Linked DNA regions of Homo sapiens: region 2 is linked to region 1. The links come from fine-mapping of genetic effects on gene expression. A gene starts in region 1. The other region holds a variant in brackets. All regions are shown on one strand. Distances are from middle to middle.

Region 1 (2,912 bases):
AGAACAGCTGAAATCAAGAACTTCTCCACCCCAGCCCCTGAGGACAATACCACCTCCAAATGCCTTGGGCCCACTCTGGTCTCTGGTGTGGTGGGACAGCGCTGTCCGGTCTGCGCAGGTGATTTATGTCTGCCTGCTTTTCGGAGAGGCCAGAGTTTATTGCCTTGCTGGGCAGAACTGCAGCTGGGGCCTGCCCTGTCCCATCCCCATCCCCCCGAAAGCAAAGATTTCCAATTACTGTTCTGTAGAAAATGTCAAAAGCATTATTCAACTATTCATTATCCCAGGTTTTGCAATTTTTCATATGTTTTTACTCTTATCTGCCAGCACTTGAAAAAGACCAGCTTTTTCCTCTTAAGAGAGCTTAATTTGCAGAGCTGTGCAGTCTTCCTATTATGTTCTTATCATCCTCTCCCTTTGGTAGGCAGAATGACAAGGATGACAAAAAAAGAACCAAAAATATTTGAAGGCCTTCCTGAAAATCCACCGGAATGAAGGATCCCAAAAGCCTGAGGCTCGGTTCCTCGAGTGACCTGGACGGGAGCCAAGGGCGGCTGGCATTAGCTCTCACAGTCCACTCGGCAGGAGCTCGTGGCTAGTGCTCATGGGACCAAAACCACCACCCCAGGGCCATGGGATTCCCCCCCAGGGGCTTAACTGGGGGATTAAGCAGCTCTGAGGTGCCAAGAGGTCCCCTCTCCCCGAAATCCTCGTACCAGTGCTAAATTACCTTTGGTATCCCAAGGACCAGAGGCTAAGGGTAGCTTGGGGTGAGTGGTTAGCTCTTCCCCCATCTCCTGTGGCCCCTCCGCCCCATTCTTTGATAAGGTAACTGACATTTTTCTCTTTGCTGTGTAAAGTGCTATGCAGAGGCAACTTCACGTCCCCTAGCTCGCTCTGTTCCACCTAGATGGCGCCCTAAGCCCCGCCTGTATGGAGATTCGGAGCAGCCATCTCCCTGGATGCCTTCCTCCCACGATCCCCAGGTTTCTGAAGCGGGCGCACCAGGACTCCTGGCTCACCCAGAGAGACGCCTTGCCCGCGGCGGGGCTCGCTCGGGGAAATCCCCGCCCACCTTGTTATTCCTGCAGGGGAATCCCCGCCCCCCGTCCCTGTCACTCGGGGAAGGGAGTTCCCGCCCCTCGAATCAACCAGGGGGAGGGAATCCCCGCCCATCCTGGAGGCTCGGCGGATCCCCTGCGCAGCGAGGCGAGGAGCGGACCCCAGCGCCGGTGCGTGCCGGCCCCGGGCAGCGGGACGCGGCGGGGCGGCGGCTGCAGGCAGCCGAGGAGCCGCAGGCCGAACCCAAGGCACCGGGATTGCGCCTCCCGCGGCTGCCGGCGAACCGCGGCTCTGCAGCTCGGGGCAGGCGCGGCGGCGGCACCGGTGGTGGCCGCGGTGGCGGCAGCTGCGCGGGGACCCGCCGGGCGGCGCCTGGGTCTGGACGCGCGAGGAAGCCGCGGGAGCCTCGGCCAAGCCGCGAGCAGGTGAAGCGACCGTCCCGCTGCAGCCGGGACGCGCGGCTCCGGGTGGGCAGGGGATGGGGGAGGCCCGGCACCCCCGAGACCGTGTGTGCCCAGGAAAGTTTAGCTACAAATCCGGGTGCGGGAATCCCAGCCCTGGCAGGGCGGGGAGTGAGGACGCCGAACCGGGGTCCCACGTTGGGCGGCGCAAACTCCTCTAGCATCCGGCCGGGGACGGGGAGGGCGCAGCCCAGGGGAGGGGGCTAGACAGAGCGGGACCGAGACAGCGGGACAACCGGAGACGCACTGCCGGGGGTACTCAAGACAGGGCCGGGACCTCCTGCTCGGGCGCGCATCCCGGGTCCCCATCCCTGGGCCGTCTTCTGGTCCCTTCCTCCGACAGGAGTGGAGGTACTCAGGTACTCCGGCCTCAGGTAATGTCTTGGGGACCATCCTCCCTCGGGCTTGTTTCATCTCTCAACCCCCGCCTCTTTGCCCAGATGAGACGTTAGACGCGGGGCGAGGGAATGCAGGGGGCGCGCAAAGATCAAGGGCATCTTAGGGCCGGTTATTGGCGTCTGCCGGGGAGATGGGGAACATAGTGATAGGGAAATCCTGCTCTCTCTCTGAAGTCGAGTTTCTCCTAAAATCTGGTTTCTCCCTCCCTCTGTTCCTCTCTCCCTCCCTCGGGTTTGCGTTTGTGTTTTAAGTCTTTGAGCTGCCTGTGGTCCCCGCTATTTGGAAAATCCATTAAAGCGCAAGGCTGAATTCAGCAGCAGGAGGGTCCAGGACCCCTGGCAGGAGTTTGCCAGAAGCTGTCCTCGGCAGCCCAAATCTATGCAGAGACCTTGATAAGGGACACTGGAGTGGGAAGAGGACAAGGTCTGGCATGGGCTGGTCGCAGAGACTGGAATGGCAGGCACGAGGGCATTCCAGAGCTCCAGACCTGCCCTGGGACTGGCCGTTGGGCAGTGTTGGGGGATGGAGCTGAGTCTGAGTCTGTCCCCTGCAGCTGGCCTAACCTCTTGCCTCCACCAAAGGTAGGGTAGGTGGATATGTTTGCCTTGACAAATCGCAATGAAACTACTGGAAGTGGTTGCTGAGTGGCTGCAGTAAGTGATGCCCTGATCTGTCCTTGCAGAGAGACCCCCTGGACCTTCAGGGCCTGTTCTCCAGTGGGGTCTCTGAACACTGGAGGGCTTTAGGGGCCTGGCATCTCTACTGGGCCAGCTTTTGTGGGTTGTGACTTCTGGGTGGTGGCCAGATAGGTACAGGTTGGCAGGTGTGAAGTGGGAGTGCTGCTTGTGGGGGCAGAAGAGAATGTCTCAGAACACACCCCTGGCTGTAGGTGGTGGTTCTGGCTTCATGAATTCCTTCTTCCATTAGGATGGGCCCAGAGCTTCTGCTCCTATAATAACCACCTAGTTGTGTGAGTGAGTGTGTGTGTTG
Region 2 (2,912 bases), 100 kb after region 1:
CTTCCTGCCCTGAGTCTCTGCTCTAGCATTTGCTGGTTGTTTGACTTTGGCCAACCTAGTAAACTTGCAGAGCCATAACTTGCTAGGGCCTCTGTTTCTTCATCTGTAAAGTGGAATAATATTCGTGTCTTCCCAGAGGACTGTAGCAAGGACTAGGAAAAATGCTTGTGATACACTTAGAACAAGCCCTGGTACACAAAGGGCTTTGATCAGTTACCTGCTTGGTCTCTAAAAGCATTTGGCTTACCAACTACTGCTGGAAGATGTGAATTAAATGAAGATTATTGTTTCTTCTGTTTGTCAACCTAGTACTTTTTCTGCTATGTGTTATTTGGTAGTGCTAGATAGAAAATTGAGCTTCTAAGTGAATTCAGAAACTTTTCCAAATATTCTTTCTGATTAGCCAGTCCATCTTCACCTTTGGAGGATGTTATATGAATAGCATTAGTACTCTTTTCCCCTGCTGAATTCTGCCATACATACATTGATTTTGACCTACTCTGAATCTCTTTAGTGTTGAGTATGTCATGTATTTTCATATTAGGTTATATTCTTTTTTCTTTTTTTTTTTTTTGATACAGGGTCTTACTCTGCTGCCCAGGCTGGAGTGCAGTGGCACAATCATGGCTCACTGAAGCCTCAACCTTCCCGGGCTCAGGTGATCCTCCAGCCTCAGCATCCCCAATGGCTGGGATTACAGGCATGCGCCACCATGCCCGGCCAATCTTTGTATTTTTTTGTAGAGATAGGTATTCGCCATGTTGCCCAGGGCTCAAGCGATCCACCCATCTCGGCCTCCCAAAGTGCTGGGACTACAGACGTGAGCCACTGTGCCTGGCCTATATTCTACTGCTTGTCGTTGCTTGTATTTTCTTTTCTGGTACAGTGGAAGTCTGTCATATTTTTATGCTATTGTATCTTGCATGATGCCTAGCATATTGAAAATAATAAATAAATTGCTCATGGAATGAATAGTTTAAATCATCGCTAGAAATAGGGGAATGGCTCTTTTGAAGGCAGGCCTATGGCATCCAGGTTCTTTTAGGACAAATCTTTCACCTGTTCCTTCATCCTTCAGTTCATCCATTCATTCGTCCATCTATCCCCAGCAACCACTGAGAGGGTGCCCACTCTCTGTCAGATTCTCAGCTAGGATATTGGTGCCTCAGATATGAAAGAAATGGAAGAAACATGCCCCACGGAAGAAACTGAAAGACCAGGTATGCATGATGTGTAGTTTGCTAATCCAGACAATGACTGTGCATTTTGAGAGGCTAGTAGGTGAGAAAATGAAATAAAGAATTCTAGACTCAGCTAATTGGCTCAGGCGGCATCAAATATAGAGTTTTCTGTCCTAGTCTTTCCTTTTCTTCCCTTTAATTGTGCCTGTTTGTAACCAAAGCACAAGTAACTTCTTACTAATGTGGTAAGAGCTTTATACAGGGCTGATCTGCAAAGCAGAACTGGTTTGTCTGGAACTTTCTGAGGTGGTTACTTTCTAAAGAGTTTATAGGTGGAATCTTTTTCTTGGCATCATTGAACCATGAAGTCTGGTCCTTTT[A/G]AGGTCTATGGCTTGGTTGTTGATTTAACCCTGCTCTGATGTTGTTTCCATTTCTAAATCACACTCATGTACTGAAAATTATATCGGTTCCTTGAAATTGGGCAGAGTTGTTAGTTTGGCTTTTTTCAAAACTAGGGTGGGACTTTGCCTTGCGTATATTTACTGGCCACTAACAAAGAAGGGTCAGGAGCAGGTCTGTCACATCCTTACTAGGTAAAAAAAGTCCGTTCTTTCACAGCTGGTATCCAAGAGAGGGTCTTAATTCACTTCCAAAAAAAAGAAGGAAAAGAAAAAAGAAAACGAGTTGTTTAAAGTGCCTTTTGATATTGATATCATTTGAAAGAATTATATAATCTTTTTTGACATGTATTCTCCAATATTAGCTCGATTTGAATTCTGAAAAAAAAAAGAAGAAAGATTTTTCCCCTTCATGGTTGAACAGGAAAGAATCTCACTGTAAAAACACTGTATTCTCTTTCTCCTTTTTTGCATGCATAATTATTGAGTCCAAGGATATAGTCAAATTATTTCAGAAGGTTTTAGTGAACAACTGAATAGCTTAATCATGCTAAAAAGAATTTTCCCTCTGCTAGGATAAGAAGCTCTGTGTGGCCAGGTGCAGTGGCTGACGCCTGTAATCCTAGCACTTTGGGAAGCTGAGGCGGGCGGATCTTGAGGTCAGGAGATTGAGACCATCCTGGCTAACATGGTGAAACCCCGCCTCTACTAAAAATACAAAAAAAAATTAGCCGGGCGTGGTGGTGGGCACCTGTAATCCCAGCTACTCAGGAGGCTGAGGCAGGAGAATGGCATGAACCTGGGAGGCGGAGCTTGCAGTGAGCCGAGATCGCGCCATTGCACTCCAGCCTGGGCGACAGAGGGAGACTCCGTCTCAAAAAAAATAAATAAATAAATAAATAAAATAAAAAATAAACACCAAGTGTCCCTGAGATACCCACTGCCTTCTCTCTTGTGTCTCAGTGCCTTCTTTTTAATGTTTAGTTTTTAAGCAATATTTTTCATATTAATAAAGAAATTTGTGTTTATTGTAGAAAAAATAGACTATGTGGATGGACCCAAAGGGGTATAAAGACCAATAACACCACCATCCAGATAAAAACACTGGTCACACCTCTTCGTATGTGTGGGTACGTGTGTGTAGAGAGTTTTAGTTCCGTTTATTTTGTACATTGTTTTATCCCCAGCATCTAGAATAGTGTCTGATACACAGTAGGTGCTCAATAAGTATTTTTTGATAAAAATAAATGGATTCAAGTGGATGTGGGAAGTCTTTGTCCTCCAAGAAGCTCTCACACACGCCCTGGAGAGACATCCTTGCCCAGGTCTCACT

Direction of the effects. Alleles are on the strand shown, and positions count from the first base shown. SD is a standard deviation of normalised expression in the study named.
For the expression in tibial artery of the gene that starts at base 1,181 in region 1, A is the high allele of the variant in region 2 and G is the other (moderate effect, 0.51 SD a copy in GTEx).

What was found.
Region 2: its variant is fine-mapped to the expression of PDZD2 in tibial artery (GTEx, PIP above 0.99).

What each region holds. Positions count from the first base shown.
Region 1 is chr5:31,637,951-31,640,862 of GRCh38, forward strand. PDZD2 (PDZ domain containing 2) reads left to right here and starts at 1,181. Exons shown (of 25, transcript NM_178140.4): 1 at 1,181-1,487. RefSeq lists a silencer at 1,135-1,484.
Region 2 is chr5:31,742,618-31,745,529 of GRCh38, forward strand. The region is part of intron 1 of PDZD2 (PDZ domain containing 2); the gene reads left to right. Among named protein-coding and RNA genes, the nearest start is that of PDZD2, 100 kb to the left of the region's middle. The variant A/G (reference allele first, on the strand shown) is at 1,562.